Homo sapiens: one gene and its partners. The main gene of each other region encodes a partner of the protein of the gene in region 3 in a complex. Each region holds a gene or a part of one and is shown on either strand. Other genes may lie near its edges. The genes, in order: CIRSR, HDAC3 and NKAP.

Region 1 (3,749 bases), on a different chromosome or scaffold from region 3:
TTACCCCAAATCAGCCCTTTTTATACTTGCTATCTCATATGGGTAGAAATATAGATAGTAAAACAGTCCCTCATCCTGTTGCCCAAACCAGAAGCTCAGGATTCATCCCTTTTCCCATCACTCCTTTATCTAGTCAATCACTGAATGCTATTGGTCTTACCTTCCAAATATCTCTTGAATCCATCTTTCCTTTCTGTCACTGCTGCTTGTGTCTTAATTCAGACCCTCATCATCTTTCACCTATATTGTTGCATTTCCTAAGTGGTTCTACTGCCTCCAATCTTGAGTCCTCTCAAATCCATTCACTACACAGCCATCAGAATAGTCATTTTTCATTTTAACAGCTCTGCTGAGATAAATTTACATATCATACAAACACCCATGTAAAATGTACAATTTAGTGGTTTTTAAAATGTATTCATGGAGTTAAGTAATCATTACCACAAACAATTTTAGAACTTTGTCATCACCCCAAAAAGAAACCCCCGCTGGGCATGGTGGCTCACACCTGTAATCTCTGCACTTTGGGTGGCTGAGGTGGGTGGATCACCCGAGGTCAGGAATTCAAGACAGCCTGGCCAACATGGTGAAACCCTGTCTCTACTAAAAGTACAAAAATTAGCTGGGTGTGGTGGCGGGCGCTTGTAATCCCAGCTACTTGGGAGGCTGAGGTGGGAGAATCGCATGAACCCGGGAGGCGGAGATTGCAGTGAGCCAAGATTGCGCCACTGCACTCCAGCCTGGGTGACAGTGAGACACTGACTCAAAAAAAAAGAAACCTGCATACCTGTTAGTCACTCCCATTTTTCCTTAACTCTTCTCCCTCTCTCCAGCCCTAGGCAAGCACTAATCTACTTTCTGTTAGTGGATTTGCCTATTCTGGAAATTCATTTAAATGGAATCATGCAATCTGTGGTCTTTTTTGACTGGCTACTCTCACCATAATGTTTTTGAAGTTTATCCATGGTATGGCATGTATTGGTACTTTTTCCTTTTTATTGCTAAATAATATTCCATTGTATGAATGTAAGTTATTTCGATAGAATTGTCTTTTTTTAAGCACAAATCTGATCTCTTTCAGCCTGTTATTAAAATATTACAGGATTGAGTCCAAGTAATCTCACTCCATCGTTTTTCTCCTTCTCCCCTCCTACTATTCTCCCACCTCAGATTTATTTATTTATTTATTTTTTGAGATGGAGGCTCACTCTGTTGCCCAGGCTAGAGTGCAGTGATGCAGTCTCAGCTCACTGAAGCCTCTACCTCCCAGGCTTAGGTGATTCTCCTGCCTCAGCTTTCCGAGTAGCTGGGATTACAGATACACACCACCACGCCTGGCTAATTTTTGTATTTTTAGTAGAGATGGAGTTTCACCATGTTGGCCAGGCTGGTCTCAGACTCCTGACTTAAGGTGATCTGCCCACCTCAGCCCAACCTAAGATTTTATATGTTAGTAATATTGAACTACTTACGTTCTATTTTATATCTCTGGGCCTTTGCCTGAGTCATTCTCTCTGCCAGTTATATCTTGCCCTGTTTTTTTCCTTGGCCATGCCTTGATCCTTTTCAAAACCCTGTCAAATGTGTGTGAAATTACCTGTGTATTGAGTTCTTGCAGCAAAATTTTTAATAGCAAAATACTGGAAATTTCTTAAGTGCCCATTTATACAGTATGAGATAAATAAATTATAAATTATGGTATAGTCCCACAATATGCAACTTTACCACCCAAAAGAAGAAAGTGTTTGTTTACTGATCCATATTAGTCTTGTATTAGTATTAGTCTGTTCTCATGCTGCTATGAAGAAATACCTGAGACTGGGTAATTTATAAGGAAAGAATTTTAATTGACTTGCAGTTCTGCAGGGCTGGGGAGGCCTCAGGAAACTTAAAATCATGGCAGAAGGGGAAGCAAACACGTCTTTCTTCACATGGTGACAGCAAGGAGAAATGCCGAGCAAAAGAGGAAAAGCTCCTTTTCTGATGGTTTTATCCATCAAATTTCCTGAGAACTCACTCACTATCACGAAAACACCATGGAGGTAACAGCCCCTTTTATTCAGTTACCTCCCATCGGGTTCCTCCCACGATACGCGGGGATTATGGGAACTACAATTCAAGATGAGATTGGGTGGGGACACAGCCAAACCATACCATTCCACCCCAGCCCCTTCCAGATCTCATGTCCTCACATTTCAAAACACAATCCTGCCCTTAACAACCAAAGTCTTAACTCATTCCAGCATTAACTCAAATGTCTAAGTCCAAAGTCTCATGTAAGACAAGGCAAGTCCCTTCCACCTATGAGCCTGTAAAATCAAAAGCAAGTTAATGACTTCCTGGATACAACAGGAGTACAGGCATTGGGTAAATACACCCATCCCCAATGGGACAATTTGGACAAAACAAAGGGGCTACAGGCCCCATGCAAGTCCAAAATCCAATAGGGCAGTCATTAAACCTTAAAGTGCCAAAAGGATCTCCTTTGACTTCATGTCTCATATCCAGGGTGTGCTGATGCAAGAGGTAGGCTCCCAAAGCCTTGGGCAGCTCTGCCCCTGTGGCTTTGCAGGGTATAACCCCTCTCCTGGATGCTTTCATGGGCTGGTGTTGAGTGTCTGTGGCTTTTCCAGGCACATGGTACAAGTTGGTGGATCTACTATACTGGGGTCTGGAGGACAGAGGCCCTCTTCTCGCAGCTCCACTAGGCAGTACCCCAGTAGGGACTCTGTGTGGGGGCTCCGACCCCACATTTCCCTTCCGCACTGCCCTAGTAGAGGTTCTCCAAGAGGGTTCCACCCCTGCAGCAAACATCTGCCTGAACATCCAGGTGTTTCCATACATCTTCTGAAATCTAGGCAGAGGTTCCCAAACCTCAGTTCTTGCCTTCTGCGCACGTGTAGGCCCAACATCACATGGAAGCTGCCAAGGTTTGGGGCTTGCATTCTCTGAAGCAGTGGCCATAGCTGGAGTGGCTGGAATGCAGGGCACGAAGACCAAAGGTTGTACCCAGCAGTTGAGAGGCTGGACCCGGCCCAGGAAACCACTTTTTTCCTTCTCCTAGGCCTCCAGGCCTATGATGGGAGGGGCTGCTGTGAAGGTCTCTGACATACCCTGGAGACATTTTCCCTTGTCTTGGTGATTAACATTCGACTTCTCATTATTTATGCAAATTTCTGCAGCCGGCTTGAATTTCTCCCCAGAAAATAGGGTTTTCTTCTCTATTCCATTGTCAGGCTGCAGAATTTCCAGAATTTTATGCTGTGCTTCCTCTTGAATGCTTTACTGCTTAGAAATTTCTTCTACCGGATACCTTAAGTCATCTCTCTCAAGTTCAAAGTTCCACAGATCTCTGGGGCAGAGGCAAAATGCCACCAGTTTCTTTGCCTAGCAAGAGAGACTTTTACTCCACTTCCCAAAAGGTTTCCCATCTCCATCTGAGACCACCTCATCCTGGACTTCATTGTCCATATTACTATCAGCATTTTGGTTAAAGCCATTCAACAAGTCTCTAGGAAGTTCCATACTTTCCCACATCTTCCTGTTTTCTGAGCACTCCAATTCTCTAGGAAGTTCCAGAGTTTCCCACATTTTCCTGTTCCAACCTCCACCTGTTACCCAGTTCTAAAGTCACTTCCACATTTTCGGGTATCCTTTTAGCAGCCCTCCATTCTACCTATACCAATTTACTATATTAGTCTATTCTCACGCTGCTATGAAGAAATGACCAAGACTGAGTAATTTATAAA
Region 2 (3,749 bases), on a different chromosome or scaffold from region 3:
TGCATATTGGTGGGGCTGACTCTCTGCAGGAAGTCAATGTAGTCCTCGGAGTGGAAGCGGCACATGTCATGTTGGGAGGCCTGGTATGGCTTGAAGACCTCGGGATGGAGACACAAGATGAACCCAGGCAGGGTCAGCCCCACTCCACAGGCTCAGACCACCCATACTGAACCCAGTCCTGGAGACTATATGAAGCCAAACATAGCATTCCCCTCATCCCACAATCCTTAAGTCAGTAGAGAGACTCCGATTAACCAGGTAAGTTATTACAAATGAGCCCCCTGAAGACCACTTCTTTTCCTTTCCACCTCCAGCTCAGCCTATCGTACCTTCTCAACTTTGAGCCCTGATCCACCTGCCCTGTTCCTTGGAATCTCCTATTCCCAGTTCTCTCCATGCTCATCTCCTCCCCCAAGCTCTGATTCTGTCCTCTTTCCTCTGGATTCTTCTTTCTGGAGTCAAATATATGGGATATATGTCAACTTTCTAATTAAAATCAAAGATTTATTATCTTTGGAAGGTCAGGGGGATGTGTCACACCTCTTTGAAAACTGCACAAGAAAGAGCTTTTCTTCTCCCAGAAAATGCACACAGGTACATACAGGCAAACAATCTCAAGGGATATAGATTCCTGCACTAACATCACCTCAGTCTTTTCTATGACCAGTCCATTTGTCTGTGCCTTGGCACAAGCAATGAACATTCATTCATATTGTTCACTAGTTTCCCTAGCAACACATAAAGCCTGGGTTTAGCTGTTTTGTCTTATTTTTTCTTTTGAGACAAGGTCCTCCCTGTCAACTCAGGCTGCTGATCATAGATCACTGTAACTTTAAACTCCTGGGCCCAAGCCATCCTCTCGCCTCGGCCTCCCAAGTAGTTGGGACTACAGGCACACCCACCGCACATGGCTACTTTTTTTATTTTTATTTTTTGTAGATGTGGGTCCCACTGTGGCCCAAGCTGGTCTCCAACTCCTGGCCTCAAGCGATCCCCCCCATTTCAACCTCCCAAAGTGCTGGGATTACAGGCATGGGCCACCACGCCTGGCGTGGCTTAACTGTTACTATCCCATATCACAGCCATAAATTCCAAGCTGGGAAGACAGCATGTGTATGTCTGGTAGATGAAAAACTGGATAGCGATTAAGCAGAACCATGTAGAGGTATTCCAGGCTGAAAAAGGAATATCTAAAATATCGCCTCTGTTCCACACGCACATACACATTTACAAAGACGGCAGCATCGTTCCACCCTGGAGCCCTAGCTCCTTGGAGGTAAAGAAAGGTGGTAAAAGAGGAGTGGGAACTGAGGGTAAACCTCACACCCTGATACAGTGATATCCGCTCCCCTAACCCTAATTCCTGAGGCCAAGGCCCTATCCACACTCTAAAATGCAGAGGAGGAACACACCTTCTGTCTTCAAACCAGCCCCACATCACGCTAACCCTAGGCCAAGGGCTAGTGTGCCTACAGTCAGAGGGTGGCCGACCTGAGGTGAGAAAGTACTTTCCATTAAGCAGAGGACGCCACCCCCAACACCCTGCACTTTCAAGGTACTCCTGGTGACTTCTATCCAGCTCCCCGATACTCTAGGGGCGGGTCGCACTTCATGCACTCAGTCCAGCCCACCTATCCCTACGGCCACAGCTCGCCCCACCCCCCAACCCCCGGCCGAGGCGGCGGAACTCACGATCATCTTCTTATAGAGACCGTAATGCAGGACCAGGCTATGGGTCAATGCCAGGCGATGGGGCTTCATAGGGTGTCCAGCTCCTGGGGGTGGGGAGAAGAGAGTTCGTCAGCTCTCACCCCTGGAGTTGCAACCCCGCCTCAAAACCTCCGTGTCCCAACCCCTCATGCATATCCCTGTTTCCTCACCGTAGTGGAAGTTGCCCACGTCGGGGTCGTAGAAATAGGCCACGGTCTTGGCCATGGTGCCGGCGGGAGCAGGCCCCGCACCTCCGCCGCCCGCCGCCCGCGGCCGCCGCCAGCCCCTCCCCGGCCGTGCGTGCTGCGCAAGCACGTAGCCGGCCTCTGCGGAACTGGGCGTTGCGGCCCCGCCTCCATCCACACCCAGGCCACGCCCCCAGGGGAGCTCCGCCCCTCGCCCGGCTCAGCTCTCCCGGTATCTGGGGCTTTGAGCGTCCCGGGTTGGGCAGGGAACTGGCAGCATAGCTCCTAGGATGCGAGGGCCATTTGTCTCCGGCCGGGGGTCAGATCCTCGGGAAGCCGAGCCATCCCATCCAGCCGCTTGCCCCAAACCGGGCGCAGGCCGTGGTCACTTCTCTAGGAAGCTCCGAAGATCCCGCCACTCCGTCCCTCAAAGGTGCGGAAAGCCGGCTTCCCCCAGCCCTCGGAGAAGATTCCTGACTCTCCGCTCGGTCGGGGCATCTGAGGGCAGGAGCTGCGCCAGGCGTACCGGATAGACCAGTGGACAACACCCACGCCGGACCGCCTGTCCCCTACCCGGACCCAGACTCGGCGCCGCACATTGCCCCGGGGGGGCCCGGCGCAGTCACGCGCGCGCAGAGCTCACGCTCTCCGCCCCGCACACCTGCGCTCCGCCCCCTGGTCCTGGGCCCGCGACGGGTGAAGGCATTTGGGAAGCCAGGGCGGCTGCGGAGGCGATCTCCCTGACCCAGGGCCGGAGTTGCCCGGAGCCTGCCACCGCTCTCAGCCAGCCCGCATCCTTCTCTGTTCTTCCCTCCCCCCGCCTGCCACGGCGCGGGTATCCGCAGCCACAGCCCGGGGCCGGTGAGGCGGCGAAGGGGGAGGGGAGGAATCAAGGGATGAGCGCCGGAAGGGCGTCGGGGGCCCTGAGCCGCACTAGGACGCCCCTGGAGCCGGAACCCCAGCAGAAGCCGGAACCAGAACCAAATCACCGGTACCGGGTCGGCCAGGTGGTCAGGGTGGGAGAAACCAAAAAGGGAGAGGGGTGCGGGAGTACTGAGAGGAAGGGGCTGCAGAGGCCTGGCTCAGGCCGGCGTGGAGGAGGTGCGGGCGCTGACTCAGGCAGGATTTCTGCTCCCGCCGCCTAAGAATGCCGTCCCATCTCGTGCTGCAGTGTCCTTGGGAGGGACAGAAGCGCGAACAAGCTGGAAAGGGGAACGCTCGGGGCGTCGGGGAAGCGGGACCAGGGTCGTGGTAGAGAGCTTGCGTTGCCGCTGACCTCTTGCCGAAAGGCGAAACAGCACTCCTGGCCCGGACAGCTCCCTGGTTGGGTAGGGGGTGGGGCCGGACCTCAGCCGGACGTCTTAGACGTGCTTGTTTCAGATCCTGAGGACGGCATTCCTACCCCTCCCCCATTCCCAGCTGCAGCCCCCTAAACCCAGGAGGCGCCCTGGCCCGCGCTCGCCCCCCAGGGCCTCATGTCGGAACCACAGCCTGACCTGGAACCGCCCCAACATGGGCTATATATGCTCTTCCTGCTTGTGCTGGTCTTCTTCCTCATGGGCCTGGTAGGCTTCATGATCTGCCACGTGCTCAAGAAGAAGGGCTACCGCTGCCGCACGTCGAGGGGCTCTGAGCCTGACGATGCCCAGCTTCAGCCCCGTGAGTGAGGAGCCTGGAACCCTGGCTCAGTCACCTTTCACCCTTCTCCCCACACCTCTGCCTCCCTGACCAACAGACCCAGGCCAAATCCTGATCAAACCTGCTCAGGAAGCCTAGTGATGCACTCTTGAGTTAGCAAGTGGGGTGACACCACTCTGAAAGCAAAACTAGAGAAAGCAGCATGGGCAGGAACGG
Region 3 (3,749 bases):
TAAGCACGTAAAAGACAAATGGTAAAGCAGCAACTGTTCTGTCTCCTCAGAGCAAAAACCTAACAAACTACAGTCTAAAGAGATGTTGTTCTGTTGCAGAGAATTCTGAAAATGAGTATTATTCAAATTCTACAATAGTTTAGAAAAGGAGTTTCCACATCATATAATCTTTTCCTCTGAAGATCATACTTGGAGTAATTTAAATATTATCTAGAAAATTATTTTGGCTGGGTGCAGTGGCTCACGCCTGTAATCCCAGCACTTTGGGAGGCCGAGGTGGGCGGATCATGAGGTCAGGAGTTCAAGACCAGCCTGACCAACATGGTGAAACCCCATCTCTACTAAAAATACAAAAATTAGCCAGGCATGGTGGCATGCACCTGTAATCCCAGCTACTCGGGAGGCTGAGGCAGGAGAATCACTTGAACCTGGGAGGCGGAGGTTATGGTGAGCCAAGATCGCACCACTGCACTCCAGCTTGAGTGACAGAGTAAGACTCTGTCTCAAAAAAAAAAAAAAAAAAAAGAAGAAAGAAAACTATTTTTAGGGTTCCTTCCAACTCTAATTCAATACATTCAGGTTCTTCAAGTGTTTTCTTTTTTTTTTCTTTTAAATAGTCTTGTTATTTGCCCAGGCTGGTCTTGAACTCCCGGGCTCAAGGAATCCACCTGCCTTGGCCTCCCAAAGTGCTGTGATTACAGGCGTGAGCCACCGCACCTGGCCTCTTCAAGCATTTTCTAAAGGTATCTGTAAGAACAAGTTTCAGATAATAATGCTTTATTATCCAATCACAAATTACAGGTTTACCTGTCAAGCACATTGTCTCAACTCAACCTAAAGTTGGCACAGAAACAGAGAGGGAAGAAGAAACTTATGAGTAGCATCAAAGAGAAAAGAAATAAGCAAAAAGAAAAAGCATTAAGTCTGCAGATAGTATTGGATATAGGAATATTAACAAAACCATACTGGTATATTCGTTTTAAAAAATCTCTTTGTAGGCTGGGCGCAGTGGCTCACGCCTGTAATCCCAGCACTTTGGGAGGCTGAGGCAAGCGGATCACGAGGTCAGGAGCTCGAGACCAGCCTGGCCAACATGGTGAAACCGCCGTCTCTACTAAAAATACAAAAATTAGCCGGGCATGGTGGCAGGCACCTGTAATCCCAGCTACTCGGGAGGCTGAGGCAGGAGAATCGCTTGAACCCAGGAGGCGGAGGTTGCAGTGAGCTGAGACCGCACCATTGCACTCCAGCCTGGGCGACAGAGCAAGACTCCATCTCAAAAAAAAAAATCTCTTTGTAATGTTAATATCTGGCATGCAATCTGCCACTGAGTTTAGTTGAGAAAAAATAATTCAAAATAATGTGTATTATTTAACAATGAACCCTTCTATTAATAGGAAAATTATATTCCAGGAATTATTTTAGATTATGCTAAAACCTACTAGCAACATGTTTTAATCTTTAGATATGTTCTATGTTTTTAAAACTTAAGGGGTAGAAGAACATAAATCACAAGAAAGAAAAATGTGAGATATATTTAAAGTTCTTCACTTAAACATTTTCACAATAGATTCAGGATTTAAACACATATTATAACATTTTAAAAATATATTTTTTAACCACTTACTCTGGTTCAGGATTCTTTGGAGAAAGTCCCCATACTTCAGGAGCTCCCAATTCTCCAATTCTCTCTCTCTCACTTAATCTCCTAGCAGATAAAGACATGTAAATTATAACTCAATGGCTGAGTTGTTTCCTAAATATATAATCAAATTCAATAGGAGTCTAGTTAAGCCTTTTTTCCCTTTATATTTTAAACATGGATAAAAACTTGGTTTAAATGTAAACTCATCACTTAAGGTCTGATGTTCTGATGATACTATCAAATGGTACAGACTATAGAAATGATGGCCTGGGAGACTGTCAAGTGCATCCATTCTGCTGAATGCATGACACAGCTCTTAACTGCTCATTTCATCATCTGTAATATGTGACAGAAACAGCTTCACATTTGTAAGTAACTTCATTTGTTTACAGATTTATGAAAGGTGAAGAGAAGTCTCTTTTGATATGGTCAAACCTTCAGTTTTCAGAAATCGAGGAATTAATGAAGAAAATAAAAATGATGCATTAGACGTAGAAAACAACTGAAGTTCTGAAAATGAAAGAAAAGTTTTTATTTTATTTTATTATTTATTTTTTTAGATGGAGTCTCGCTCTGTCGCCCAGGCTGGAGTGCAGTAGCACGATCTTGGCTCACTGCAACCTCCGCCTCCTGGGTTCAAGTAATTCTCCTGCCTCAGCCTCCTTAGTAGCCGGGATTACAGGCATGCGCCATCACGCCTGGCTAATTTTTGTATTCTTAGTAGAGATGGGGTTTCATCGTGTTGGCCAGGCTGGTCTCAAACTCCTGACCTCAGGAGATCCACCTCAGTTGCTGGGATTACAGGCGTGAGCCACTGCACCGGGCCCGAAATAAAAGTTTTTTATTTTTTTGTAGAGATGAGGTCTTGCCGCCAGGTGCGGTGGCACATGCCTGTAATCCCAGCACTTTGGGAGGCTGAGGCGGGCGGATTGCTTGAGATCAGGAGGTCAAGACCAGCCTGGCCAACATGGTGAAACCCCGTCTCTAGTAAAAATACAAAAATTAGCCAGGCGTGGTGGCGCATGCCTGTAATCCTGGCTACTAGGGAGGCTGAGGCAGGAGAATCGCTTAAACCCAGGAGGTGGAAGTTTCAGTGAGCCAAGATCGCACCACTGCACTCTAACCTGGGAGACAGAGCGAGACTCCGTCTCAAAAAAAAAAAAGAGGTCTTGCTTTGTTGTCCAGGCTGATCTTGAACTCCTGGCCTCGAGCAATCCTCTTGCCTCAGCCTCCCAAAGCGTTGGGATCACAGGCATGAGCCACTGCACCTAGTCAAAAAGTTTCATTTAACAAAAAATATACTTGGGGCTGGGCGTGGTGGCTCACGCCTGTAATCCCAACACTTTGGGAGGCCGAGGCAGGTGGATCACCTGAGGTCAGGAGTTCAAGATCAGCCTGGCCAACATGGTAAAACCCTGTCTCTACTAAAAAAAATACAAAAATTAGCTGGACACGGTGGCATGTGCCTGTAGTCCCAGCTATTCAGAAGGCTGAGGCTGGAGAATCTCTTGAACCCTGGAGGTGGAGGTTGCAGTGAGCCAAGGTCACGCCACTGCACATGACAGCCTGGGTGATAGAGTGAGACTCTTATCTCAAAATAAAAAACCAAAAAAAAAAAAAAAAAAACTATACTCAATGAGATACAAGGTTTGTTCCCTCTCTGTTTTCCTTTTAGTTCCTTTTTGGAAAAGGAGTGCATTTTGTATCTATTCTTTGAAGGACACTAAAATTTGTTTCTTCTTTTGTTTTATGCCTATGGTTTCTTCTGTTTTAATTTTTGTTATTCCTCATAAACTAAAAAACAAAACAAAACAAAGACTAAGGCTCATTCTCTCAAATTTTAGCTGCTTGTGACTCCATTTGTTTTTAAAAATCCTTCCAAAATAAATATAATTGCAATGAGTTTTTGTATAAATCGTTTTTGCCTCCTTAATCAGGGGAAAAGGTATTATAACTATGCAGAGTCAGACTGAGAGGGTTTCCCACCTGAAGTAACAGACAATTTAAAAGGTAACATATTTATAGCTGTACTTGGAATGTATGGATATCGGGGGAAGAACGCCTACCAGGCTGTAAATAGCAGGAAGTCCTGTTGTCACCTGGT

What was found.
Region 1: NKAP (region 3) and CIRSR share a complex: the UniProt entries of both Homo sapiens proteins name them as parts of the notch corepressor complex.
Region 2: NKAP (region 3) and HDAC3 share a complex: the UniProt entries of both Homo sapiens proteins name them as parts of the notch corepressor complex.

What each region holds. Positions count from the first base shown.
Region 1 is NC_000002.12:174,389,034-174,392,782, reverse strand, and holds part of CIRSR (corepressor interacting with RBPJ 1), read left to right. Parts: intron 1-3,749. UniProt on the Homo sapiens protein: May modulate splice site selection during alternative splicing of pre-mRNAs. Regulates transcription and acts as corepressor for RBPJ. Recruits RBPJ to the Sin3-histone deacetylase complex (HDAC). Required for RBPJ-mediated repression of transcription.
Region 2 is NC_000005.10:141,634,856-141,638,604, forward strand, and holds the start of HDAC3 (histone deacetylase 3), read right to left. Parts: upstream 1,995-3,749; 5' UTR 1,936-1,994; coding exon 1,881-1,935; intron 1,776-1,880; coding exon 1,693-1,775; intron 99-1,692; coding exon 1-98. Other genes in the region: RELL2 (RELT-like protein 2), read left to right, coding at 3,371-3,554. UniProt on the Homo sapiens protein: Histone deacetylase that catalyzes the deacetylation of lysine residues on the N-terminal part of the core histones (H2A, H2B, H3 and H4), and some other non-histone substrates.
Region 3 is NC_000023.11:119,937,103-119,940,851, forward strand, and holds part of NKAP (NF-kappa-B-activating protein), read right to left. Parts: intron 1,709-3,749; coding exon 1,628-1,708; intron 1-1,627. UniProt on the Homo sapiens protein: Acts as a transcriptional repressor. Plays a role as a transcriptional corepressor of the Notch-mediated signaling required for T-cell development. Also involved in the TNF and IL-1 induced NF-kappa-B activation.